Homo sapiens: one gene and its partners. The protein of the gene in region 4 interacts with the protein of the main gene of each other region in a biochemical or structural test. Each region holds a gene or a part of one and is shown on either strand. Other genes may lie near its edges.

Region 1 (7,027 bases), on a different chromosome or scaffold from region 4:
TTTTTTTTTTTCCAATTTTGTGAGTAGCTTTCCCAGAGAGAGTCTTTCTTTCCTACAGATGAATCCTAGGGTGTCACTTTTATATGGTATATATGTCAGTGGCCTAGGCTGTGGAGCTCTGGGATGGCAGTGTCACCGTTTTGCTGGGAAGGAAACACCAGGCTGGTTTTTATGCTGGATGTGTGGGGGTGGAAAGCTCTCCAGGGGGTTGGAACAGCCACTAAACTGGCTATGAGGATGGGCATGGGCACACACATATATGTGCGGGTGTGGGAAGCTGGCAAGTTGTTCAGAAGATTCTCTGCTGTGCAGGTCCAACTGTTTCCTAGGGAGGAGAGTGTCGCGTGGCTTTGGTTGCTTAGGTCTTAGTTTTAACATCAGGCCCAGGCTCTTGGCAGCCAGGGTTGTGGTGCTGCAGGCACCCATGTGAATGTGATAGAATGATGATGAGGTCTCAGGGACAAAGAGTATAAGTGGTTATTGGCCTCCAATGCAGGACACACTGTAATGGTGAGTCCAGTTTCAAGATGGTGCTATGATGCAACAGCTTACGATACAGGGTTGCAGAACTATATTTTTAAGAATGTTCTCAAAAGCTTGGAATCTTTTATAGTAGATTAGGTAATCCATGTCAAGATGACAATTAGTGTAAATATATAAAAGTGAGGTGTTTCTAACTGCCTGGGAAAACTTCCTTGCAAAAATCTCATTAACTAAAAATTGCAGACTATTTTCGTCTCTTGTTCAGGAATTTCAATGATAAATTTTTCCATTGTTTTCATTATTTCATTCCATAGTTTTATAGTTTTCACTGATTCTTCATTGTCTACAACAGTACCTCTTAAATTTTCTTGTAAAATGGAACTTTTTGAGAACCTGAGGAAAGTGAATGGAACCTCTCCCTCAAAATATTCACACACACAATATATTTTAGAGATTTCTTGAGGATTAATACGCTCTGACTTCTAAGAAAATGTCCAGAGTCCCTATCTTGTCTTTTAAGAGCCTCCATAATATAGCTCTGACCTTCTTTTTTGGTCTCCTCATTTTGTAGTCTTCTCCAATATATGTCTTTCATTTCGACAAAACTGAAGTCTTCCATTGGAGTATACATTAAACTTCTCTGCTTCATTACCTTTTTCCTTAGAAAGGCAATAGAAAGGTTTTTCGTTCTTCCTATAATTAATTATTTCCCATAGTTGTATTAAAATGTGTCCATTCCTCAAGCTTAATCTCAAATTATGTCACCTCCATGAAACATTCCAAGATTTTTCTGGCCAGAAAGACTTTCTTTTCTTTGAATGCCTATGGAGCTCAATGACTAAGCAATTTAAAGTTTTCTTACATTGCACTTCTTTTTTACGGCCATGAAACCTTTCAAGGGAATACACTTTATCTCTCCAACTATGCCATAAGCCTCTGGTGAAAATTAGCACATATTATTTACCTTTTTATTCATTTGTATGAGTAGGAAACCATCATGCACATAAATGAGGGCTCAATAAATAATTCTTGAATGGAGGAAACATTAATAGAAAACCAACATCTTAAACAACTGAATTTTGGCACGTTGCAACATACTTCAGACTAAATTAAGTAGCTGTGTTGCTTACAATTTTATGTGACAGTCTGTTACTCATGCGTTGTTTTCAGTTTTGTTACAGGTACTGTAATCAACATTAACCAGAAAAGGACACCTAAGTCTCACTGTGCTGATAGCAGTCTAGTTTTACAGGAAAAGGGTAGACAAGAAATGTAATAGATAGCTTGCCTTTAGTAAGCTACCCAGGGCTTGATGAAGAACCAATTGCTTCTGTTACATAAGTGCCGAGAAAATTGCAAGGTATTTAGTATGGCTGCTGATGAAGAAAGAGCAATAGACAATGTGGGGAGGAGGGCAAGACACACATTCTGTACAGTAATATTTAAAAGCATGCAAGGGATGAGTCATAGTGACTAATAGTGATAAGCTAAGAAATGTTAACCAGAAGTTACAAAGAACTATGAATTCACTGCTGATAGTTTCAATAAATATGATCATTGATATTTGGTCTCTTTCAGTGCAAATGATAGTGTAAGTATAATATATATGTATTGATTTAGAAAATACATACGTTATAGTGTTTCCAGAGTAAACCTTTATGTAATGGTTAATGTTCAAAATTTCAATGATGCTCATTTAATCCTAAAACATCAGATAACTGAAAACGATTTGATTTAAGTTTTCTCACTTCTAGTCACCTTTTCTTAGATAGTTATTTTTAGTCTACTTGTAAAATCTTATTTCTCAAACAAACACCATAGCTGAAAATTTTCCATTCTTCATGGTGAAATGATTATCTAAATGGAATAGAAACACTGTAAGTAAGATATACTTAATGACTATATTTTTCTTTTAGCATAGGAAGATGATAAAAATTTTTATATAATAAAGACTGTCTTATATCTGTCATTGTTTTTCTTTTGAGAGATAAATCGCAGCAATGTAAATATTATTTTAAAGTAGCAGGCCATATTTTTATTTGAAAATACTAATAAATATATACCACTTCATTAGTGTTCGTGGAATCCTCAGTGATAAAAAAATAAGTTTTTCTGTTATACCCAACTGTGATTTAATTAGTTGCTACAGCCTTAAAATTGATATACACTGAATGATAGCCACAATTAATATCATGTTAGTCAGATTTGATACTGCATGTAGTTACTAGATGTTATCAGAACTTTAGCTAACTTCTTTAGGATTGCCTTTATGATATTATCTTGTTTCTAATGTGTAGGATTTATGCATTAGAGACAGTAACAGCCCATTGATTTTGACTCAGTATTACGTTAACTAGTTGCCAACAAGCAAAACAAACAACAACCAATACCCAGTTTTCCCAATTGGATGGTCCTTTATTGCTGACTTAGGAAATTGATTCACGCAGATAACCCTTGCTAAAATATTGCATTTTTTTTAAAGAAAAGCTGTGATAGTTTAATCATAGAATAGAGTCCCCACATACCCCGCACTCAATTTATTTTACTATTAACATTTTGTTAGTATCGTAAATATGTTACAATTAAGTAACCAATATTCATACATTATTATTAACTAAAGTCCATTTTTGTTCAATTTCCTCAGTTTCCACTAAAGGTCCCTTTTCTGTAACACATCACATTTATATTTCATGTCTCCTTTGGCTCTTCTTGATTGTGACAGTTTCTCAGATTTTCTTTTTTGATAATACTGACAGTTTCAGGAGTATAGACCAGGTATTTTGTAGAATGTCCCCCTATGTAAATTTCTCTGATGTTTTTCTTATGATTAGATTGGAATGATGGGGATGGGGGAGGAAGATAACAAAGGTAAATATTATTGTCATTACATCACACTAAGTGTACATACTGTCAACATGATTGAACAATATTTTAATGTTTAAAATGTTTAATTGACAGTTAATAATTGTGCTTATTTATGGGGTACAATGCAATGTTTTGATCTATGTATACATTAAAAAGATTTGATAAACTAATTATCATATCTGTCACCTCACCAATTTATTTTTATTTTTTGGTGAGAATGTAAAAAATTTTAGCAATTTTGAGCACTTTTGATGTTAAACTTGAGTATCTGGCTAAGCTCATATTTGTCAGACTTCTCCGCTAATGGTGTAAATTTACACTTTCCTGCCCTTCTTTCATACCGTACTCGACCCTTTGGAAAGAAGTCACTATGTGCAGCTTACACTTAAGGCCCAGTATTCTGCTCGACCTCTTTGAGGGCAGAGTGCTGGCATAAATTATTTGAAATTCTTCTGCACAAAAAAATTGTCTTTTTTCTTTCATTTATTTATTTATTTTTATTTATTTATTTTTTTGAGACGGAGTTTCACTCTGTCGCCCAGGCTGGAGTGTAGTGGCGCAATCTCGGCTCACTGCAACCTCTGCCTCCTGCGTTCAAGCAATTCTCCTAACTCAGCCTCCCGAGTAGCTGGGATTACAGGTGCCTGCCACCACGTCTGGCTAATTTTTGTATTTTTAGTACAGACGGGGTTTCACTATGTTGGCTAGGCTGGTCTCGAACTCCTGACCTCAAGTGACCCGCCTGCCTCGGCCTCCCAAAGTGCTGGGATTACAGGCATGCGCCACCACGGCCGGCCTTCTCATTTACTCAGTCATCTATTTATATCAGTATGGACTCATGGGTGTTTATTTTATATTATGATTTGCAATCCAATAGTACTTCCTTTTGCTATTGAAATTGTTCCAGTTTTGGCTATTGGGAGCTTTTTTAGTTGATCCCTGTGTCCCTTTGACACACCTACATCATTTTTTTGAATACTTATTTTCTAGCACTACAAGATGTTTCAGGTTTACCTTTCAGAATATTGATTTTGACTTAAGTTTTTTAACTGAGGATCCAGTGTTCCCCAGTGCTCCTCCTTGATTTCGGTTTTTCTTTCTCCTTTAAATAAAATAATTTCACACTGGTACAAATACATACATATACATATACGTGTACATATATGTATAAAACACTGCAATTATTTTCACTAATAAAGTCATATGACTTATAATGTCTTAAGGCATCAACAAGATTAGCATTAGGGGCAAGGGTCAGAAAGAAGACATACAAGTTTCCAAAAAAGTCTTTAAAGTACAAAGTGACTGAACATTTGTGCAATTTGCAACACGTCAATATAATTAATATGCTGCTCTTGACATCACATGTTATATAATACAATGCATTTTGAAGCCTTTATTTCTATTTCCAAATGCAAAAATTAAATGATGTCTTTCACATATCAGAAATAATAACTATGTTTAATCATAAAAGAATATGTCTCCAAAGTATCACCAAGATCCTTAAATGAGAGTCCCCAAATTTTGAAATATTAAATATATTTTAATGAATGTTAACTTAATTATATACGTGATACCGTACTGTCAAGAATGAGACATGAAGACCATGGTACCACACTCTCAGGATTGAGGCAATGAGTAGCAAGGATTTGCAATCAACCAGCAAAGCTTTCATCTCTAAAAATGTTAGGAATCATTGCAATAAATTTAAATTTTTTGTCGTAATGTTCTAAATGTAGTAAAGCAATTGAATAACTTATGTAATTTTGTGCGGTGTGTTTTAAACCATAGGCAAAAAGATTTAACCTTAACCTTTCTGTAAATAACTATATAATTGTAGTTCATTTCTCATTCCTTCATTTGACATAAAAGTCTCTACTGAATAATGCAGTGTAAAGTTAAGTGAAGCAGGCCTAGTTCTGAACTTCAGAAAATCACACTATTTTCACCTCGTAAGAAGACAGGCAACAACATTAACAGATATAATGCCTGGAGAAATACCAATTGTAGATATGAGCATCAGCTTCACATTCAAAGATTTTCCTTGGGGGCAGGAGAAAATATATGTAAAGTGCTCCATGCTTGGCACACAGTAAGCATCAACAAAAGGTACTTCTTATTTTTAATGTTGTATTAGTATTGCTTTGTTATTGTTACCTTTCCAAAGTCATTTCCTACCACTCTCTCTGTTGAGCGTGCTTCTCCAGATACACTATCAACCACACTCCCATCTCAGGTCCCATGAAATTGATTTCTTCCTGGAAAGCACTCCCTGCAGATACCCACATATCTCATTTTCTGCTTTATGGGAAATAATTTTACAATAAGTTTCACTGTTTTAGACTTACAATTTCTCTTATGCATGAGTATTTCCCTAGCATATTTCATAAAACAGATGGGTTTGTGTTGAGGATGAAGACCTACAATACATTTGACCCTATCTGAATCGTTTTGTTAAAAAAGGCAAATACACTATCATGTGTCTGTTTTCATAAAAGGCAGAGGTCTCTGTATGAGGCATGTGCCACGCTGGCTGAATAGCCATATCCCCAGAGGGCAAAAGAGCAACATGGTTACAGGATGGCTGGAAAGTCACCTCTGTGGTCATGGACCACACATGTGATCCTAAAATCACTATAATGAATAACAGGGCAGGACATAATTTTTAGTTCACCGGTTAAGGAATATTTTGAACATTAATCAATGGACTCTGTGGGGACATGTGGCATTGATTTGTATAGAAAAGCATATATGGTGGTTAAGTACTCCCTTGGCACAGGAGAAGTACCCTCTCATTTGCTTCAAATTCTTGAGTCAGACATTCTGTCTTCTTTTCACTTCATTTAAATATCTACTCAAATATTACCTCATCCAAAAAGCCTTCTCTATCTGAAGGAGTGCCCTCTACTTCACTCTATTCTTTCAAATTAATTTTTCTCATATTATTTATAATCACCTAAATATTATAATTTGGTTTGTTTTTATTGCCTCTCTCTTCCCATTAGAATGTATATTCAATGATTCAATGAAAACAGATTTCTCTGTTTTGATCCTGTTTTATCCCTAACATCTAGAAGAGTGCCTGGAACACAATGAATGCTCAATCTTTGTGGAATAAATTATTAATAAATTCTAAGTCTTATTCATCCAATCCTACTTTCTTTTGGATAGCAACATATACAATAACATCTGCTCATTTTTTCTAGGCAAACCTCACTTGAAACTTGGAAAGGGCTCTAGTAAAGAAAGAATGGAGTCTTTTCTGGCAGTGCACAGATGACAAAAATATTTAAAGTCACATATCAGTACAGTTGGTAGGTTGTGCAAAAGCCTGAAACCCCAACAGGTAAAATAAGGGCATGGTCCCCATTCCTGACAATTCCTTAGAATTAAACAGCTCTGTAAATGTCCAATTTTGTACTGGGGCATGTTCTTGGCCCATAAATGGTTCATTTGCACTTTATTCAATGTCTTCGAACACAAAGAGGAAATCACGACATCTCTTTCAGTAAATGCAGTAAGCATGATTTTTCATGTTAACACTGTGACATCCATCTGTATACTTATGCAATAATATGTTTATGAGCAATTGCAAATACCTATATATATTATTTCATAATTAAATACTCTGTCACATAGGAAGCATTATCATAATACAATGTTAAAATATGTGTTCTTT
Region 2 (7,027 bases), on a different chromosome or scaffold from region 4:
ATGAACGATCCAGTCCAGAACGTCAGCAGTGCCCAGGCTGAGAAATCTCATCCTAAAGCATGGCCGGTGGAAGAGGAGACTGCTGGACACTTCTGTGGCCAAGCGTATTTAAAAAATGCTACACACTGTGAACTCCTTTCCAAGATTCGTAATGCATATAAGTACTTTAACAGCTGTAAGTCCTACAGAAAATGAAACCGCACAACTGTGTTTAACCTAGCCCCTCTGAACATCGGTGTATAGAACACTATGACTGTGGCTGGACCGAACACTTTTTGGCATCCCCCAAAGCCAGTGTTCTAATGGTAGAAACGGATACCAATGATACAGAGACCATGGGTCACCACTGTGCTAAGAATGGAAAAATAAAATCCTGTTGTTGAGATGAGCTCCAGCAGTCTGTCAACACATCAAGGGCAAATCCAGTGTAAGCACCAGCCACACAGGCAGAGACTCAAGCCTGCCACAAGTGACAACCTCTTCTCTCCTTAGGTTAGAGAAGGCCCCTGCCTCCAGCCACTGGAATGAGATTCTGGGGATATAAAATCGGAAGCCAGATAGTGCTGACCAGAAAGGACAGAGATTTAGGTTTATCAAGGTCATTTAACACAGAAGTAGCTGCTAGTTTGGGGGAAACTGTAGTGGGCACTATCCTAGCCACAGATCACCTCTCTTCAGCAGTGGCCTAACAAACTACAGCCTCACTTTCCTGAGTCTGTTCCTACATATGTGATTCACCAATTCTAAAGCACGTGTGTTGGTGTAAGCGTATGGCCACAAGTCCTCTCTGGGTGTCGGCAGAGCCTCTGTGAGGGCATAGTGTCTGCTTAGGGATCTTGAACGTCCTTGCTGCGCCAACACAAAACAACACGTGCTACAATGAAATGCAACCCAGAGAACACGAAGTGGCGGCTTCTGCTGCAGTGGTTACGTGGTGACTGGCCAGTCCTCAGAAAGTTGATGGGAAGGATATGAGCCTCTGTAACTTCCCAGAAAAAGAAGAATGAAACCTGCCAAGTGCATCTACTAGACAGACAGCGAAAATACCAGCTCCTTCATATACCACCACTATAAACCACTGTCGCAACAGAAAAGGCCCTGCTCACCCTTGCACCTCCTTCCCAAATCTGCTGTCACATTTTCTCAAAGAGAAGCAGGGAAACAAAAATTAAAAAGGTTCAACGATCACACACTGCTACTTACACCCTTACATCACTTTCTGTTTGCTGATGCATTTGGGCGGTGCCGTGCCACTGACACAAGATCTTAGTCTACACTACCCCACTAACCCACAAGCCCTACTTGAACCAATTTCACAGAATAAAACCATAGCAAGGAGGAGCAAGGTATTTTGCATGAAACGACAGAAGGCAATGACAGAGACTGACTTGTGCCACAGTAGTCTGTGTCCTTATGAGGTTGCTCTACAGTTTACACTTCTTTCCTTTTTTGAAATTAACATAGGATATGCTTGCAGTCACAACGAAACACAAACAGGAGCTGTACGTCCATATCTGAATATACAGCACTACACACACAGCACATACACAGATAGATACACGTAATATTTAACACAAAATTCAAAGCCAGTTTGAAATTATCCTCAGATCCACAATAAAATATAAATTTAAATTGTGTTTTACCTGATAGATAAAGCCACTCATCCTAGGACTGGCAGACAACATTAGCAAAACATTTGGGAAGAGTAGAAGATATCTTTCATTCTTTTCCTAATACAAAAAAAGAAATCCAAAACATTTCTTAAAAAACATCTACTTAACAAATGTGAGCACAAATACTTCACTTATTTATACTAGGCCCTATGAAACATTACATGATATTTCTCGTTTAGGTATTTCTATCAAGTTTTATCAGGTAAATTAAATGGAAACAATTATGATAAATTCTGTATTAAGTCTTAACATATGATTATGAGAGAGCTTTAACATATAGGTAAAGAGAAGGACTTCCAAATTCTTCAAAAAACAAAAGGTAAGAAAGTAAACGGACTGATTAAAAGATCCTGGACTCACAATTAGCCTGTGTAACATCTTGAAACTATATTTGGTTAAAGAGTTCAGCTCTGTGATTAACTATTTTCAGGTAAGCTAAAATTTTCTTTTTCTGGTTCAGAGAAAAAGGAGAGAACCTATAAATTTTAATGGGGTCAGGGGGAACAGGTGGAGTCTTTAAGCTAAAGAAAGGATAAAATGTTAAAATCAATTTTGGTCTACTAGTAATTCCTGGCACTTCCCAAACCTCCCAAATGTCGACTCAGTGTTGTTTTCATCCACCCCATAAACATCACCTGGTTTACATCAGACTTAAAAGTATTACTTATGTATTAAAAATCATTTGCTTCAGTAAGATAAAAGCCAAAGAGACCATAAGTGAAAGAAAAAAGTTCCTAAGAATCCAAAAAGAGACAAAAAAATGCCACAGTCCTTTTCACATGTTGACATTTAAACTACGGCCCAAAAAAGTGAAATCAGTCCTAGGAATTAGTTTCCCCAAGTATATTCCTCAGAACATTAGGCTTATGCAAAGCACCTTGAGAAAAGAGTCTTCCGTACTTTAAAGAAGTCACTGAGAACGACTTGCTATATTCCCCTCTTGAAGAATCACAACATACATTGGGAACATTCACAGCCAAGTCTCTGAGGAGCTCTATCATAAAGAATCTTTTCCACTAATTACGTTCAGTCGTGATCAGAACCACTCTGAAGCATTTTGGAGTAACACCCACCAGTGCTGTATAGATCTAATATTATAAAGAACACACTTTGGGAAATGTTTCCACAGATTAAAGTTTAAAAGAGCATGACTCAAAAAGAAACTTCTTCTGAAAAGATGTGAAGTTTTTATAATCATGGTTTCTTATGGTACCCAAACTACAAGACTATGTAGAAGGGGTGATATTTTACAGGTGGAAAGGAAAACACACTATATAAGTTTGAAGTTTTAGTTTTCTTATTCTCCTTGGAGTCTTGTGTTCAAAAATGAGTCATTTCGCATGTTTTGATCATGTTATTTTTGCAAAGGTAGAATAAAATTCAGAAAGAGGTGCCTGTTCAGTGACCCATTGAATGTATGTCAATGTGAATCATGAAACAAACTGCTCGATTTTCACTGTGTGGGTGGGTATGTCCCAAAAATCTGGGTTGATCTCTCACTTAAACCAAACCTGTAAGAAAACTGTGACTCCTGTAAGCATATGTCAGCTAGCATACTTTCACAGGAAAGTATAATGACCCGAAAGCATTGAGAGCAGCAGGTCCCTGTGAGAGTGAGCCTTGGTACAAAGTTGCTGGCCAGATAAGCGCATACAGCTCCATGCGGATGTGTGCACAGGACTCCTGCAAGTCTTTCTGCACACTATCTATCCTTCAGTTCACGTGGGCTTCGGGCCACACTGACTTCAGCTGGATCAAACTGATCAACAAGTCCACACTCAGCTCTAAGCCTCTCTAACATGCCATAAGCCTCTCTCCTGTGTCAAGAATAAAAAGTAGCTCACAAATTATAAGATAGAGCTTCTATTAGACATTTTTCATCGCTTGAGATGCCTTTAAAATCTTCTGCTATGAGCTCCTAAGAGTGGGACAGAAACCCTGGTGCGTGCATGTGGGCAGCAGTACCTCACTTCCGGCACACTGAATCAGGACCTGGGACATGTAAGTGACGTTGCCCAGAGTTTTAATGTCATCGCCCTCCCAGTTCCGGATGGCTTCCGTCAGGATCTGCAGCTCAAGCTCTTTCCTCTTCCGGACTTCTTGACATTGGGCCTGACAGACACAGAACAACACTGTTAACAGACATAAACTTTCAGAATGTTAAGTTCCGGCCACATTGCTTTGTATCATCCTTAAGACAATTATTGCTTTATATCTTACTTCTTCAGACAGATAATTTATTGAGCGATTTGCTTAATTATAGGGAATTGAAAGTATTTGCTTAGAAGTATGAAACCAAGTTAAGAGAAGCAACACACACAACTGCTCTGGAATACTAAGTATTATTTTAGAAAGATAGAGCACATTTTGCCACTTGTACAAAAAAGAAATGTGGACAGGACAAGAACTGTATTTTCATTCTGGTTTTGTTCGTGTTTGCCAATATGGAAGACTGAAAAGAAGAAACAGAAAGTATAACTTGTGCTATAAAATAAGGCCATATATTTCCAAAACGCAGTTGGTAAGACAACACAACAGCAGAGAAAATGGAACCACCATTGTTCTGTTTTGCAATAAATCATTAAAGACAACATGAATGAAGGGTAAAAAAATGTTTTAAACAATTTTAAAGTAGATCTAACATCAATTACACAGTGACTTTAAAAAATTTAAATAATTATTCTATCATAGTCCACTAAAAGGAGTTTACCAGCCACAGAATGCCGACTCTGTTTTTCTTTCATGTCAGCACAAGTCATTTTTTAATCATTTGACTTTTTCAGTTGATAATTCTTTTACATTCATTTGTCACAATAATGTCTGGGGGGGAAAACAATATGCTTAATCACTTACTGAAAGGTTTTTGAAGGCAGCCATGGATTTTTGAATATCTTGTCTATCTGTATGATAATCCTTTGAGTAAAAGAAACATACAATTAGCTTTCATAAGGAAAAGCTTTTCTTAAAAAGGTACTTTCTACAGACCAGCTTGAAACTTTTCTAACACTTTTCAACCCTTAACATTCCCTTTTTCCCTCAGCATTAAAGTGTCAGTCTTTCAGCAAATCACGAAGCCATTAGACTTTGGGGAAATATAAGTTGGAAGAGAACAGTCACAAGCAGCAGGGGTGGGGAAGCCAACACTTGCTTCATCAATAAAGTCTTATTGGAACACTGCCACGGCTCACATACAGTATCTAAAATGGCAGAGCTGTGTAGCCGTGAAGAAGACCCTACAGTCTGCCCCCTTATAGAAAAGGTTTGCCAACTCAAGCCAAGAGAGTAACTTCAACCCAAATTTCTGCTAGGCTGCAACCTGTTATTCAAAATTAAAAGAGCACAATCATTCATCAAATGATTAGTACAGTATTACCCTATAACCTATGCACACATTGTTTGTAGCTGGATGATCCAGGTAAGACATCTCAACACTATCTGAAAATCAGTTCTCATGTTTCAGCTTTTGGAAACTTTTCAATCAGCAGCAGTGGGTAAAAGAGAGATAAGGGGTAAATGTTTTCTAATAGAGCTGGAATAAGGAGAAAAACATAATATTTAACAAAACTCTTTGTAAACTCTGTTGGTTCTGGCTTCTAAAATAAATCATGAATAATACTTTCTTTCACAGTAAGTCTGACCATGCCACTAACCCTTGGTAAGGACTCCAAGTAAGAGAATGAAAGCGCAGTACCTCCATGTGTCTCTCGAGCTCTTTGAGCAGCGTAGGGTATTTATCCAGGCGCATGAAGGGTTTGCTCAGGCCCGTGGTCAGCACGAGAATCCCAGGGCTGCTGGCACCTTTGGTCTCCATGAACTCCCCCAACTCCTCACTGGGCAGCAAGTGGCAAGAGAGACACTCGTGGTTAGCAATGAGAGACAATGGTGGCTCTCTCATCTCCATGAGCAACAGCCAGAATTTATGAAACATAAGTGTTGCTTTTAACATCTGGAAGGCTCCAGCTTTTATCCCAAATCTGCGCTGCTTATCTGGAAATGCCAAAGGGGACTCCCATCCCTAAGGGGTCCCGTTCCTGCTCTCATATGAGCAACAATAACTATACACAGCACAGGACATGTGGGTCTCCATGAGATCCTACTGATGGCGAGGTCCTCCAGCACATCAGTGCCATGCAGACATATCCAATGGAAACATGCACACTCAGAGCCAGAATGGATTCCAATAATCTCAGAGTCTCAAGGTGGTAGAACAAGGACCGAGCTGCTCCGGTAAAGAGCTAGAGCACACTGATGGTAGTCATCCCCAGATGCGAGTTCGTCCAGCGAGCAGGCCCCACCTATGTGCTGCCAGCACTCAGCCTGGGAGTAGGCAATGGCTCTTGGGGTGAGGAGCACGAGAAGCAGCAAGAGAAGAGAGCAAACGCTGATTTAGGCTTCAGAACTTCAAAAGCTTTAAGTTTAATCCTCACAATACGTGAGGAAGAAAGGGGTCCCTGTGTGCAGACAGCGAATGTTGATTTACGCTTTAGAACTTCAAAAGCATTGTTACATTCAATCCTCACAACACGTAAGGAAGGAAGGTGTCCCTGTGTATGGACATAGAAACAGTGCATATCCCAAAATTAAAGAGTCAGAAACAAGTTTTAGAACTTTCTGTATTCCTCTTCAACCATCCCCTTCACAGTGCCTCGCCTATCTTTCCCTACAGTGGGTCCTCATGTGTGTCATCTTTGTCCTCAGAGTTCCCATGGCTGTGGCAGAGGACACGGGCAGGCTTCTGTGGGGGGTCCAGCTCTTCACCCACACGTTTGTTAAGGCTGACAGTCACCTGACCGCAACACCCCTTCACTGGCGATCTCTGAGGTCTCTGTCAGGCCCTGGGTCTGCTGTCCCTCAAATTGCATGTGCCATCAGTCCACACATCTGACAGTGTACAGCCCACAGAAAGGAGGGGAGGCAGCACCAGCGCTGGCAGCCGATGCCAGGTCCAGACCAGGATGACTTCTCAGTCACCACATCCCATCCAGGAGACCCAGGTGACCCCCGCCCCATCACCACGCCCCATCCTAGAAGATAGGGGTCTCTAGTCAGCAGAGCTTGGTTCAAATGATACCCATGGCACAAATCCTAGGAACAAATTTTCCTAGTCTAGAGGTTTTCCCTTAAAAGGAAAAGATACTTTTATATCCTCATTATGTAAACGATGTCCTAAAATAAACATGAAAATCCTAACAGCAAAACTGAGAAACAAGCCAATTTCCGGTTCTGGTCTCACAGGAGCCTCCCACCGCACCACCCCAGCCAAGCTGGCTACTGCCAGAGGTCTCGGGGACACCAGAACCATCAAGGGCTCCCGGGGAAAAGACAGACAGTGTTTTGGCTAACCCAGAGGAAAC
Region 3 (7,027 bases), on a different chromosome or scaffold from region 4:
TTAAAAATAAATAAAATAAAAAGGAGCAAAGTAAAAAAGTTAGTAAGTGCAGGTCAGGCACAATGGCTCACATCTGTAATTCCAACACTTTGGGAGGCCGAGGTGGGCGGATTACCTGAGCTCAGGAGTTCGAGACCAGCCTGGCCAACATGGCAAACGAAACCCCATCTCTACCAAAAATACAAAATTAGCCAGGTATGGTGGTGTGTGCCTGTAATCTCAGCTACTGCGGACTGCGGGGGGTTGGGGGGGGTGGGGCGGAGGCAGGAGGATCGCTTGACCCTGGGAGACAGAGGTTGCAGTGAGCCAAGATCATGCCACTGTACTCCATTCTGGGCGGCAGAGCAAGACTCTCTAAAAAACAAAACAAAAAACTGAAGTTAGTAAAAGCAGAAAAGTAAAAAGAGGGAAACAGGCAAGACACATGGTGGCTCACACTTATAATACCAGCACTTTGGAAAGCCAAGGCAGAAGGATTGCTTGAGGCCAGGAGTTCGAGACCAGCCTGAGAAACATAATGAGACTCCGGCTGTATAAAAAATAAAAAATTGGCCAGGCATGGTGGCACGTGCCTGTAGTCCCAGCTGCTCAGGAGGCTGAGGGCAGGAGGATCGCTTGAGTTGGAGGTTACAGTGAGCTGTGATCAGATCACTGTACTTCATCCTGGGCAAGAGAACAAGACCCTGTGAGAAAAGAGAAAGAAGAGAAGAGAAGGAGAGGAGAAAAACGGAACCAGAAGAAAAAGGAGAGCCAGGTGGACCTGCAGATGGGGACATCGGGGCCACATGGGGCCACAGCCATCTACACTGACAGAAGATGATGACCATGAGGTATAAAAGGGGGTAGAAAGATGGGGACGTGGGGGGTGGAGTAAAGCGTGAGCAAATAGAGGCCATCCTTGAGGATCTGTCTACTATGTGCTAAGCACCTCACTCAGTCTCCCAACAATGTGGAAGGCAGGCATTACACCCATTTCATAGCCTGCTTTCAATAGGGTTTTTTTTTGTTGTTGTTGTTGTTTTTGAGACGGAATCTCGCTCTGTCACCCAGGCTGGAGTGCAGTGGCCTGATCTTGGCTCACCGCAACCTCCGCCTCCCAGGTTCAAGGAATTCTCCTGCCTCAGCCTCCCGAGTAGCTGGGATTACAAGCATGCGCCACCACGCCCAGCTAATTTTGTATTTTAGTAGAGATGGGGTTTCTCCATGTTGGTCAAGCTGGTCTCGAACTCCCAACTTCAGGCCTCAGGTGTTCCACCTGCCTCAGCCTCCCAAGGCTGGGATTACAGGCATGAGCCACCGCGCCTGGCCTCAGTAGGGTTTTTATGTTTTAGAAGAGGCCAAAGTCTCCAAGGCTCATTCAAAACAATACACACAGACCGGGATCCAGAAGAGAATCGGCCTGAAGCTCCCTGGAGCTCCCTGGAGGGTTCCACCCCCCTTGCTCCAGCTCACCCAGAGTTCTACGATTCAAAACAGCTGGAAATGTGTGCCCTGCTCTCCCCAACAAGAAAACAGAACAGAACATGGCTGTTTCTGCCAAGCGAATTCTGAATAAGCTGCATTCCATTTCATTAAAACAATTACCTGAGCTCCAGCCAAGAATTACATAAAGCTTCCTCCCAGCATCACCCCCTCCCCCATAAAACACACATCATGCTGCTTTCAAATAGGCAGAGTGAAGCTCTGAGCCCTCGCTAGAAGACCTCATAGTCCTCGCCAAGTGGCCAGCCTCGGCATCTCTGCACGCTGACATAGATGACATGAGGCTGAAAGAAGACCTTGGCATGAAGCCCTCCCCTCATGAGAGCCTGCTGGCTGCCCGAAATGTTTCTAGTAGGCACCAGGGCCCTCACCTCTGCCTCAGAGCCAAGAGGGCCACTGGTGCCAGAATCCAGCTATTTCCCCAAAACAGACTGGAGGTCCAAGAGGGCCAGCTTTGAGTCAGCACAAACTAGACAGGAGGGACCAAGGGAGTGGGGATTCCAGGAGGGGGAGCCTGAAGGCTGGAAAACTGGATGGTCAGACTTGAGCTATAAGCAAAAGCCTGGGGACACTCAGCCATCACTGCCCACAGGTTAATGGTGTTCCACTGGCCACAGATAAGGGGTTCATGATGTGAGGCAAAAGACATCTCCTCCCCGCCCACAGGCCTCAAGCTGCCCAGAGACCGTTCCCTGAATTATGTAAAGCCTTGCTGTGGCTGGGCACCGTGGCTCACACCTGTAATCCCAGCACTTTGGGAGGCCAAGGCGGGCGGATCACCTGAGGTCAGGAGTTCGAGACCAGGCTGGCCAACATGGTGAAACCCCATCTCTACTAAAATTACAAAAATTAGTCAGGCGTGATGACGCACGCCCATAATCCTAGCTACTGCGGAGGCTGAGGCACAAGAATCACTTGAACCTGGGAGGCAGAGGTTGCAGTGAGCCAAGATCACACCATTGCACTCCAGCCTGGGTGACAGAGTAAGACTCCGTCTCAAAAAAAAAAAAAAAAGTCTTGCTCTGCATCCCATCAGCCTAGACAACCCATCTCAAACTCCAACCAGAGTTCGGCATCTCACATGCTTCAACCCTGGTCTGATTAATGTCATCATGCTCAAATAACTCATGAGGCTGCCTCCACACCTATGGACACACACTGTCTCTGGGCCTGTCTTTTTTCTGCACAGGTCACAGCACTGTGCTCCCCATTTCCCAGATGATAGTCAGCAGTCACTGTCACCTGAGGCCCCCCCAGCTACTGTCTCTGCTCACCCAGTCTTCCCACCACCTGCTCAATCACAGGAGACCAGCAGTCATTCAGGCCAACCATAGGCAGGCGCAGGCCAGCACCTAGGCCCAACAACTCCAAGCCCATCATGGAAAAGCAGGGTTTCCTTACTTTTCTCCAACTTTTCATTATAAAAATGTCTAAGCACACAGAGAAGTTGAGAGGCCCGGGTACTCTCACTTAGATTGAATGGCTGTCATTGTTTTACCACTTTGTGTAAACGCATGGCCCTTGTGCTCTCTGCCCTTTATGTGTATATCCTTTTTTTCATTATATCATTTAAAACTAAGTTGAGCTGGGTGCAGTGGCTCACACCTGTAATCTCAGCACTTTGGGAGGCCGAGGTGGGTGGATCACCTGAGGTCGGGAGTTTGAGACCAGCCTGACCAGCCTGACCAACATGGAGAAACCTGGTTTCTACTAAAAATAAAAAAATTAGCCAGGCGTGGTGGTGCATGCCTGTAATCCCAGCTACTCGGGAGACTGAGGCAGCAGAATCGCTTGAACCCAGGAGGCAGAGGTTGTAGTGAGCTGAGATGGTGCCACTGCACTCCAGCCTGGGCAACAAGAGCAAAACTCTGCCTCAAAACAAACAAACAAAAAAAAACAAATAAAACTAAGTTGAGGCCAGGTGGGGTAGCTCACACCTGTAATCCCAGCACTTTGGGAGGCTGAGGCAGGTGGATCACCTGAGGTCAGGAGTTGAAGACCAGCCTAAACAATATGGTGAAACCCCACCTCTACTAAAAATACAAAAATTAGCCGGGTGTGGTGGCATGCACCCATAGTCCCAGCTACTCAGGAGGCTGAGACAGGAGAATTGCTTAAGCCCAGGAGGCGGAGGTTGCAGTGAGCCAAGATCGCGCTGCTGCACTCCAGCCTGGGTGACAGGGCAAGACTCTGCCTCAAAAATAAAAAATGAAAAAATAAAAATAAGTTGCAAGACATCATGACACTTCACTCCTAAATACTTTAGCATGCACCTAACAATAACAATATTCTCCCATAAAACCACAATACCACAATCACACAAGAAATAAGCATTAAAAGTCCGTCTTTAAGGGAAGATTTGGCCACTGGGGTTCCACTGGGCCTGGCCAACCGCATGTTCTGTCTACCACTGGCCCAGCATCCAAGGCCTCCCTGGAGAGGCCAGCCCTGAGCACCACTGGTTAGGCAATCGGTTAGTTAGTTGGAAGACTTATCAGGGTATGAATGTACACTCAAGGCCAGATATGAGACTCCCAACAAGACCCAGACTGCAAAAGGCAGAGTGGACCCCGTGAGGCTGTCGATGGAGTCTCAGGGCCCATCCCAGGTGAGGAGGGCACCCTGAAGCCATTTCCATGACTTGCTTTGTGAACATTTCTGAGAAAACTCAGCTTCCTGATTCTCTCTTCCTCTCCCCCTCCCATAGGACATCCTTCATTCTCCACCATAAAGTTTTCAACAACTCCCTCCTCTGGATACGGGAAAGACAAGGAGCATGTTCGGGTGCAGCGGGGCTGGGGGCACAGGAAGGCTTCTGATTCCTGAGCAGAGGAGGTGGCAAGGGACCACAGGGGACCTGCCCCAGGTTCTCCTTGGCAGTGGTGCTGTAAGCTCACTGCTCTGTCTCAAGAGTAACAGGTGACTGGAGAGGTGACCAGGGAGGGAGGATTGGGGCCTCCCCTGGAACAGGAGACACTCCCCCCAGGACCCTGCATCCCATCCTGAGTGTGTGTCCCCAAGAAAGAACAAAAAGGCCGGGTGCAGTGGCTCACGCCTGTAATGCCAACACTTTGGGAGGCCGAGGCGGGTGGATCACCTGAAGTCGGGAGTTCGAGACCAGCCTGACCAACATGGAGAAACTCCGTCTCTACTAAAAATACAAAATTAGCTGGGCATGGTGGCTCATGCCCCCAGCTACTTGGGGGACTGAGGCAGGAGAATCGCTTGAACCTGGGAGGTGGAGGTTGTGGTGAGCCGAGATCATGCCATTGCCCTCCAGCCTGGGCAATAAGAGTGAAACTCAGGAAAAAAAAAAAAAAGAACAAAAGACAGACAAGAAGCTGCAGAGAACAGGGAAATGACAGATGTGGAAGACAACAGAGAATAGGGTGGGTGCAGAAAAATGTTAGTGTCCTAGAAACAGAAAACAGTCAAACCAATGGGCAACCCATATCAGATGCAGTATTATGAACAGAAGTGTAAAGAATGCACCAGGCACAATGGCTCATGCCTGTAATCCCAGCATTTTGGGAGGTTGATGCAGGCACATTGCTTGAGGCCAGGTGTTCAAGAACAGCCTGGGAAACATGGTGAAACCCTGTCTCCACAAAAAATTTCAAAAATTAGCGGGGCGTTACGGCATATGCCTGTAGTCCTAGCTACTCGGGAGGCTGAGGGAAGAGGAACACTTGGGCCTGGGAGGCAGAGGCTGCAGACCCTGTCTCCAAAAAAAAGTGTACAAAACAGTTGGCTGCAAGTCCCGCTCAGCAGCCAGACCACCTGGATTCAAATCCTAGCACTGCCATTCACTAGTTGTAGAACTTGGGCAAGTGGGCTCACCTCTCTGTGTCTCAGTTTCCTCACTTATAAAACAGGTAGTAGTAATACGACTACTAATAAAACCTGCCTCATATGGCCAGCTTGATTCAAGCAAACAATGCATGTAAAGTGCCCAGCACAGTGCCTGCACATAATAAGAGCTCAATAAATATTATGAGAAAAAGTTCTGTAAACACTGTAAAAAAGAAAAGTACCCCCTAGGCCAGAGTGCAGTGATGCGATCTCGGCTTACTGCAATCTCTGCCTCCCGGGTTCAAGCGATTCTCCTGCCTCAGCCTCCTGAGTAGCTGAGACTACAGGCACGCGCCACCACGCCCAGCTAATTTTTGTATTTTTAGTAGAGATTGGGTTTCACCACATTGGCCAGGCTGGTCTTGAACTCCTGACCTCAAAAGATGCACCCACTTCAGCCTCCCAAAGTGCTGGGATTACAGGTGTGAGCCACCATGCCCGGCAGATTTTGTTATTATTAATGAAGGCACTGAGACTAGGATGATCCCCGGAAAGGCTGCAATGAGGCTGGAAGTTTATTCAACATCTCTGGAGCGAGGTAAAGACGCAAGAGAAGCTTCAGAGTCAGATACTCCAAGCAGGATGACTAAATAGGAGAGGAGGGCTGCTCAGTGGCCCACCAATAACTCTGGCCTTCCATCAGCCTCTCCAGCCAAGGGTACACCCAGTCTCTTCAATGCATGACCATCACTAGGGAAGCTGGAAAAAAGGAATACTGAGATATTCCCTCAAAAGACCTTGAACCTATAGTGACAGGGCTTTGGGTTCCAGTAGGCTGAGCATTTCTCCATCAAGCTATGTCTGCCCAGGCAGCAGACAGCTTCACATATCAGAAAGTGTACCCGCTGAAGAATCAAACCCACCAAGGTTTGAATCCCAGCTCTGCCCCTTACTAGCACAAGCCCAGGAGAAGGTCTGGCACTGATGCAGAGCCCACCAGGAGGGCACTATCGCTGCATGGGTAAATGCCGCCTCTGCCACACGCCCAGCAGCTGGGTGCCCTGACTCTGCCCTAACACACAGAGGGACCACAGACAGGAAAGCCCAAAGTCCAGACTTTCCATGGAAACAGGGAGGCTCCATAGCTCCCAATGCCCCAGGCAACTCCTCTGCCCCCCTAGCACTACCCCCAAGGACAATGAGGCACTGTTTTCCAAAGGGTCAAGACTGCTGAGAAGCTGAAAGAAGACATGTCCAGATTCCAGCAGCAACTGGGCACTGCCAACAGCTGGCTGTTCCCCCTGCTAGAGGATGGGAAGGCAAAGCTACCCAGTCTTGCACTGGACACACCCTTTGCCATTTCCTGGGATGGGCCCCTAGGGCAGAGATTGTTAAAGGTAACTATCAATTACTCAGCAGGCCCCAAGGCTCATCCCCCTGGTTAGTCACCAGCACCTACCACCTTATGATGATTAAGATAACCGGATCTGGAATTGGATGAGCCTGGGTTCAAATCCCAGCACTACCACTAAACTTCCCTGAGCTCAGGTTTCCACATGTATAAAGTGGAGCGAAAACACCTCCCTTTCTGAAAGGTTGTGATACAGCTCGTAAAGTGCTGAGTACAGTGCCTGTCTCCCATGAAGCGCACATGATCATGATTAGACCACAGTTGTGGTCAAAGCCCCCACCAAGTACACTGAGAACATGAACAGAGGAAGAGCAAGCAATCGGGTTAGAAAACACAGTCAGA
Region 4 (6,701 bases):
CCGCGACCTCTGCCACGTGGACCGCGCGCGGGGCGCTCCCTGGTGGCGATGGCGCGGCACTGGCCGAGCACTGCGGGGGCTTTCCTCCTTGTTGGTTGCTGAGTGGGCGGCCAAGGGGAGAAAAGGAGCCGCTTCTGCCTCCCTTGCCAAAACTCCGTTTCTAATTAAATTATTTTTAGTAGACTCTGGAGTTGAGCTTGTGCATCTGCCGCACAGAGACTCCCACCCGGACCCTCGTCCTAGGCCATGGAGGTGGTGTTTGAGGCAGCCCGCCCCCGCTGGCCAACCTGTCCCTGGACATGGGGCTTTAGGAATGTGCTCGTGGGAGGGTGGCGTTATCGTCATACATGTTAGCTTTGTTATTCGCAAACTAACTCTTCCACTAGACAGACGTTCCCAGCACAGGGGCTTCCCTAGGGCGGGGGTCCTGGGGCACTTGCAGTCACCCTTCATGTCTGCCACCTCCCTCCAGCCCCCATTCTCTAAGCATCAGAAACAGCTCATGGTCACTTCTTTATTTTTGATACAAATGTACATGACACGTCTTGACAGCCCACCCACCACCACACAGGTAGGGCCTGGCCCCCAGGGAAGAAGCGGGATGGGGAGAGAGCTGGTGGGTCCCACCGTCTGCCTCTCCAGCCTTCCCAGGCTGCAGCCAGGTTCCCAGGCCTCCAGAGGGTGGGACCACAGCAGGTGCAGGTAGTGATGGTGGGTGCTGGCCTTGCAGAGGTTACGGGGAGGGGACTCAGCTCCACAGCCACCAGCTGAGTCGGGGACCCCGGGGAGCCAGCCCCAGGCTCAGGTGCTCAGTCCTCCACCCTAGCCAGCACACATTCCCCCTCCACGCAGGAGCAGGAGGAGATGGAGGGAAGTGGTTTTTGATTTAAGTTCATAGAGAAGGGGCGAGAGTGGGGAGGGATCAGGGAGGCAGCTGGCAGGACCAAAACTGGCTACCCGGACAGTCCCTGGCTCCAGGTGGGGAAGGGAAGCTGATCCCCATGCTGGTCCCACTGCTCTGGTCCCCTCACCCCTCAAAACTCCAGATGGACCAGGCCTCCGGAACGGCACTGCCGCCCACACACTCAACACGCAGGCACGCGGGGGCACTCAGTTACCACAAAGTTAAAATTAAGGGGTGGGGAAGAAGAAAGAAAAAAAAAAAACAGACTTTCCAGTGTTTGCTGCTGGGGACCCCAGCACACAGGTTGGGGCCTGTGCCCTAGGCAGGGGCCATATGGCATTAAAGGGAGAGCAGCAAGGGGCTGGTGGCTACAGGGCAGGGACATCCATGGAGACTATGTACAAAGGAGGGGATGCCCCCGCTCAGCCCCCAGTAGGGCTGAACTGGCTCATGGGGGTGGGGCGCATGTACGGAGAGCTGCCCCACTTGGAGTGTCCCCACCTGCCCCTTTGCTGAGGGTGCCCTAGAAGGCGAGGGGCTGGGAGTGATGCCTTGCAGGCCCCTGCTCACTAGGAGGGGGGAGATGCTATATACAGAGGGGAGGTGCATGGAATGTGGGGGACAGAAGCTCCTGCCCCCCCACCTCCCCATCCTTAGGGGCTCGACAGGGGTGGGCACCAGGGCACCTGGCTGCCAGGGAGTGTGGCAGCACTAAGGGCACTTGTGCCAGTGGCTCTGTTGGGGTGGGGATTAATGTCTGGAGTGGCCCAGCTCCTATGGCCAGTGAGGTCCTAGGGTGCAGGTGAGGGTGTGGGGAGAGAGGTCACTGCTTCTTCTCTCGGGTGGTGATGGTGACCAGCTGCTTGGCAGCCTTGGCGATGTCATAGGCGCACTGGATCACCTGCTGAGTCAGCAGCTGGAAGTCCACTGGGGCGCCGGGCTCTGGGGGCACTGTCTTCCGGCACTCACTCTGCAGCCGGTAGGCGCTGGCGTTGAGCAGCCGCAGTGAGCTCCGCACTGGCTCCAGGGCTGGCCTCTGGAGGGGGCAGGAGTGAGGCTGGACCTTGGACTTTAAGCCACCAGCTGAGATCAGGGCCCAGTTTGTCTGTGTCTCCACCCAGGTAGCGATCAGATGGGATTCTCCACGCCTGCCCCAGCTCGAGGCCCTCCCACTCCTGGTCCTCTCTTTGGCCCCTGTACCTTTGGGAAGAGGGAGGCCATCTCGGTCACAGCCAAATGGATCTTCTCTGAGCAGGGCACGAAGCTGCGGGGAGAAGGGAGGCTATAAAGCAGGGGGCTCTCAAGGGAGGTTCCCAGGGACAGCAGAACCCAGGGCCCCTCATGCTCTCTGCAACACCCTAGAAGCCAACAGGAACTGCATCCCCCTCACCTCCCCCTCCACTCAGTACCTGTCATGCTTGAACTCCTGGGCTGCCCGCAACAGTTCCTGAATGTTCTTGGTGACCTGCTCTGTCTTCAAGATGACATCCTCTGTGCTGGGAAGCCCAGGATCTAGGTCTCCATCCAGGCTTTCCAGCTCTGGGTGGAAGTCTTCCTCTTTGCCCAGCTCTAGAAACCTCTTCCCTTCCAGCCTGAGGCCCAGGTCCAGAAAACAGAGACAAAGATACATATAGAGAAAGACACGTTCCAGCCTCGGAGCCGCCCGCCTTGGTCCTCACACACTGGGGGCCCTCTCAACCTCCCCGCCTCGGCATGTGAGCAGGCTGGACTGGAGACCCAGGGAGCCTCACCCCAGCAGTGGGTCCCCACTTTGCGTGTTCTCATAGTCACTGTCGGCTCCACTGCCGTGGCGGGAAAGCTTGCTCTGGAGGGCGGAGGGAAGGGGCTGTGAGCGCCGTGTTCCTGGACCCACACTGCCCCTAGCCCACACGGCCCCCAGCCACCCTGTGGGCACTGGGCATGGAAACATTACCGTGTGGCGGCTTCCCTCCTGGGAGCAGGACAGCAGCGGGGAGGAGGGAGTGAAGGGCACAGCTGAGGCAGACACCCCTTTCCGGATCTGAAACCCAGGGCAGCGCTGGATGGAGTCAGTGTGCCCCACTGCCCCCCTGCTCACCAGCAGTGCAGCAGGGACCAGGTCAGTCTAATCATCTTAAGCCCCGAATTCAGCACAGAGCCCAGAACCCCCTGGGGCTCAGAACCTACTGGCTAAGATGGACACGCCTTCCCCAGGCTTACCCGGTAAAGGCCAGCAGGGACGTGCACTGAATAGATGGCGTCGTCCTCTAGCTCCTGGGGATGTTAGCACAGCGAGCGTCATGGTGGACCCTGCGGCAGCCCCACCCATCTCCCCACACCTTGAGACCCATAGGTGACTCACAGTGCTGTGGAAAGGCTGCAGCCGCGTAGTGAGCTCGTCCCCAGGGGGGCCCCCAAAGGGCTTCAGGGCAGAGCCAGGTTCATACATGGAAAAGGCCTGGCGATCCCTGCGGTGTGTGCTCCCGCCTGGCGCCATGGGTGTGTGTTCCGCCCGTTCACTGGGGAGTGGAGGTGTGGGCACCGGCCCTGGAGGCTGCCGGAGCTGCAGGTTCTCCGCCTGCAGCTTGTGGATCTATGGGTGCAAAGTGCTGTCAACCCCCTGGAGTCCTGGGGCTCCCCCTCCCACCGAGGCTGCACCCTCACCTCTCGCTGCAGCCTCCGGAGCTCGTCGCTCAGGCTACTGTTGACCTTCATGAGCTGCTGCACCTTTGCCTCCGATGTAGCCAGGGCCTTCTTCAGCTCCAGGTACTCCTGCAGCGTCACAGCCCCGTCAGACAAGTCCGAGGAGTCCATGCTCTGCAGAGAGAGACCTAAGCTGGTCAGCACCTGGGGGCAGGGAGGCCAACACCCGCAGGGGGCAGTTATTGAGGCTAGGAGCAGCCCACCTGTCCCTCAGGCCCCTGGGCTACAAGAGGACAGAGCTGGGCCTCAGCGAAGGCCTGGGTCAGGGCACAGGGGAGTGGGAAGGAGGGTGGGACTCAGACCCGGGCCCGGTTGCTCCGAGTGGCGCCGGTGCTGCGCAGGGGCTCCTGGTCTGTGTCCTCGTCAGAGGCCACGCTGTCGTAGTCGTGTTGGTCGTCGAGGTCACTCTGGCTCCGCAGAGACAGCTCGAGGTTGTCTGAGGACACAGGAGTGTCACTCAGGCCACACTCCACCACACAACCCATCTCTCAGGTCACCACTGGCAGGGAGAGCCATGCAGGAAAGACCCCTGGAGCCCCGCCTGCTTCCCACACCCTCCCACACAACCCTCCCACCTGTGGGGCTGCTCAGGCTCTTGCCCTGCTGTCTCCGCTTGGCCTCACTGAGAATGTCGATGATCAAGGTGGCAAACTCTCGGGCATTAAAGCGGGCCAGCTTTTGTCGCCCCTGCAAGGCAGAAAGGGCCAGGCTGGCTTCAGGGGACCCCTTATGACTGACGCAGGACGGCAGGGACCAAGTAGCAAGGCATGGCTCTGCCATTTAATTTAACCCCAGCTAAAGCGTCCCAGCCTAGCTTCACCTGGCTAGTCAGCAGCCAAGGCCACCCGTGGCAGGGTATGATAGAGTAGGGTGCCTGAGCAGAGGCCGGAACACCCACCGGAGCTGCTCCCCAAGTGCTCAAAACAACAGCCTCCTGACCTTCCCAAATCCCAGTGCCAGCTGTGCCCTGAGGGAGGCCCTGGCAAATGCTGGAGAGCTGGCTCAGGCCCCAGCCCACTGCCGGATGAGGAGGGACCGCGGGGATGAAGTAGACCACCCCAGGCCCCCAATCCAGCCCCCTCACCTGATTCCGCGTGGCTGAGTATTCCGGGTTAACAGGCAGGAAGGGCACGGCACTGCGCTCTGTCACCAGAGTGCTGTGGTTTTGGGTAGCCAGCCACACTGTAGGGGACGGACAGGAGCAGATCAGCCACGGTGGCCAGGCCCCCAAGGTGGGGGTGGGGAAGCACTGAGCCCAGCCTTCCTAGCTGCCCCCACGCCTACTGAGCACTGGTGTTCAGAACAGGGGTGGTCTTTGGGCACGCAGAGCTAGGCCGGGCCAGGGCAAGGCTGGGCGTGGCCGGCTGGGGACAGACAAATGGAACAAGGCCAGTGCCACTCATCCAAACCCAGAGTTTGGGCTGGAATCCGGCTGTGGCCAGGAAGGAGTGATGCAGGGGGGTGGAGCGGTACCAGGGAGACAGCCAAAGTGGGAGGCTGCCAGAGCAAGAGGAGCCCCAGTCTGAGGCTGGGGGAGGAGCACGCTAGCCGCCTCCCCCTCAGCACTCTACCCAGCCTGGGATGCTGCCCAGGCAGGCTCACAGCCAGCAGGGGCTCATCTGCAGGCCTCTGAGCAGCCCCAACCCCAGGCACCCCTTCTTAGCCCAGTAAAGGACCAGAGACCCATGCCTGGGCCGCTCGGGTCCTCCACGCCAGACACTCCTGCTCCCTGACTCACCTGCATCATTTTCTCTTCGATCCACCTCGTCATACACGTCCATGGCGAGTTCCTCAAAAAGCCGGTTGCTGAGCTGGAGGAAGAGAGGGGCCCAGATGTTGTCAGATGCATCGGCTCCCAGTGCCAAGGCCAGCTCCCCAGCATGTTGTGAGCCTTGGGGAACCGGTGGCCTTCCTTGTGCTGCCCAGCCCCTACAGTCTCAGAATGGGAAAGTGGAAAGGGATCATGTTCCAAACTCCAAGGTGGGAGAGAAGGGACCAGTCCATCCCCTTGTAGGGAGGTCAGGGAGAGGGGACTGCTGAGGCCAGTGAGGGGACAGGTCAAAGACTTGGAAAAGGTCATCGAGTCAGAGGCAGAGGAAGCAAGAGCAGAGGGTGGGGGATCAGAGAGGGGCCAGCTTCAAGTGTCAGGGCACTGTTGGAGCAGACTTACCGCCTGCAGCTTCTTCTTAGCAGCTTTGGCCAATTCGGATAAGTCAAGGCTGAGGGCAGAGGGAGATGGGAATTGGGAGGAGAGGAGAGACCTGAGAGGTGGCCAGGCCCATGCCAGCAACCTCCCCAACATGCAGGGATCCCGGGGAGATGGCACCCCAGATGCTGCACACCAAATGCCTCCCCGCCCTACCCCACCTTCAGGCCTGCTGCCCCGGCAGGCACCATATACCTCTGAGACATGCACTTTTGCCGAGATCTAAGTCCAGAGGAAGGCAGCAGAGGGAAGAACAGGACAGAGGCGGCAGTTACCCAGGAGCAGGGCAGCACACGCCTTTTCACATCAGGCCCAGACCCATCTCCACGCACACCCGGCCCAGAAGGGACAAAGCTGAATTCATCTCACCGCGTCCCCCACCCCTCCTCCTCTGGCTTGCTCTTCCTCTCAGTGACCTGTTTGTCCACCACCAGTGTCAGCCACCTGGCAGTCACCTGAAGCCTCCCTCACCCTCCAGTCCTAGTGAAGCTCCCCAGGTTCCTCAATCACCTGTTGCCTGGGCTTTGTAAGTTTCTTAATCTCCCTCCTTCTAGTTTTGTCCCTACAATCCTGTTCCACCCAGCAGCCAGGGTGATTTTTTGGATACACCTGGCTGCACTACCCCTTGCCTTAAGGCACTGCAGTGATAACAGGTGCATATGGCACACTCCAAACATACTTCATCAGAATACCCTAGGGACGGGCACAGTGGCTCACACCTGTAATCCTAGCACTTTGGGAGGCCAAGGTGGGAGGTTCGCTTGAGGCCAGGAGGTGGAGACCAGCCTGGGCAACACAGAGATACAAAAGCAATTTAAAAATTAGCTGAGCACGGTGGCATGTGCCTGTAGTCCCAGCTACTCAAGAGGCTATGGTAGGAGGATCGTTTGAGGCTGTGGTAAGCTATGA

What was found.
Region 1: the proteins of GIT1 (region 4) and KLHL4 form a complex in vitro, tested with the Homo sapiens proteins (one study listed by BioGRID).
Region 2: the proteins of GIT1 (region 4) and ARHGEF7 form a complex in vitro, tested with the Homo sapiens proteins (one study listed by BioGRID).
Region 3: the proteins of GIT1 (region 4) and PXN form a complex in vitro, tested with the Homo sapiens proteins (one study listed by BioGRID).

What each region holds. Positions count from the first base shown.
Region 1 is NC_000023.11:87,520,799-87,527,825, reverse strand, and holds part of KLHL4 (kelch-like protein 4), read right to left. Parts: intron 1-7,027.
Region 2 is NC_000013.11:111,272,290-111,279,316, reverse strand, and holds part of ARHGEF7 (rho guanine nucleotide exchange factor 7), read right to left. Parts: intron 5,504-7,027; coding exon 5,365-5,503; intron 4,587-5,364; coding exon 4,527-4,586; intron 3,786-4,526; coding exon 3,639-3,785; intron 1,731-3,638; coding exon 1,644-1,730; intron 1-1,643. UniProt on the Homo sapiens protein: Acts as a RAC1 guanine nucleotide exchange factor (GEF) and can induce membrane ruffling. Functions in cell migration, attachment and cell spreading. Promotes targeting of RAC1 to focal adhesions. May function as a positive regulator of apoptosis.
Region 3 is NC_000012.12:120,255,713-120,262,739, forward strand, and holds part of PXN (paxillin), read right to left. Parts: intron 1-7,027. UniProt on the Homo sapiens protein: Cytoskeletal protein involved in actin-membrane attachment at sites of cell adhesion to the extracellular matrix (focal adhesion). Recruits other proteins such as TRIM15 to focal adhesion.
Region 4 is NC_000017.11:29,572,975-29,579,675, forward strand, and holds the end of GIT1 (ARF GTPase-activating protein GIT1), read right to left. Parts: intron 6,015-6,701; coding exon of another isoform or gene 5,988-6,014; intron 5,806-5,987; coding exon 5,757-5,805; intron 5,398-5,756; coding exon 5,325-5,397; intron 4,769-5,324; coding exon 4,671-4,768; intron 4,274-4,670; coding exon 4,162-4,273; intron 4,023-4,161; coding exon 3,889-4,022; intron 3,701-3,888; coding exon 3,548-3,700; intron 3,477-3,547; coding exon 3,246-3,476; intron 3,158-3,245; coding exon 3,104-3,157; intron 2,925-3,103; coding exon 2,838-2,924; intron 2,730-2,837; coding exon 2,656-2,729; intron 2,497-2,655; coding exon 2,314-2,496; intron 2,169-2,313; coding exon 2,105-2,168; intron 1,962-2,104; coding exon of another isoform or gene 1,941-1,961; coding exon 1,728-1,940; 3' UTR 501-1,727; downstream 1-500. UniProt on the Homo sapiens protein: GTPase-activating protein for ADP ribosylation factor family members, including ARF1.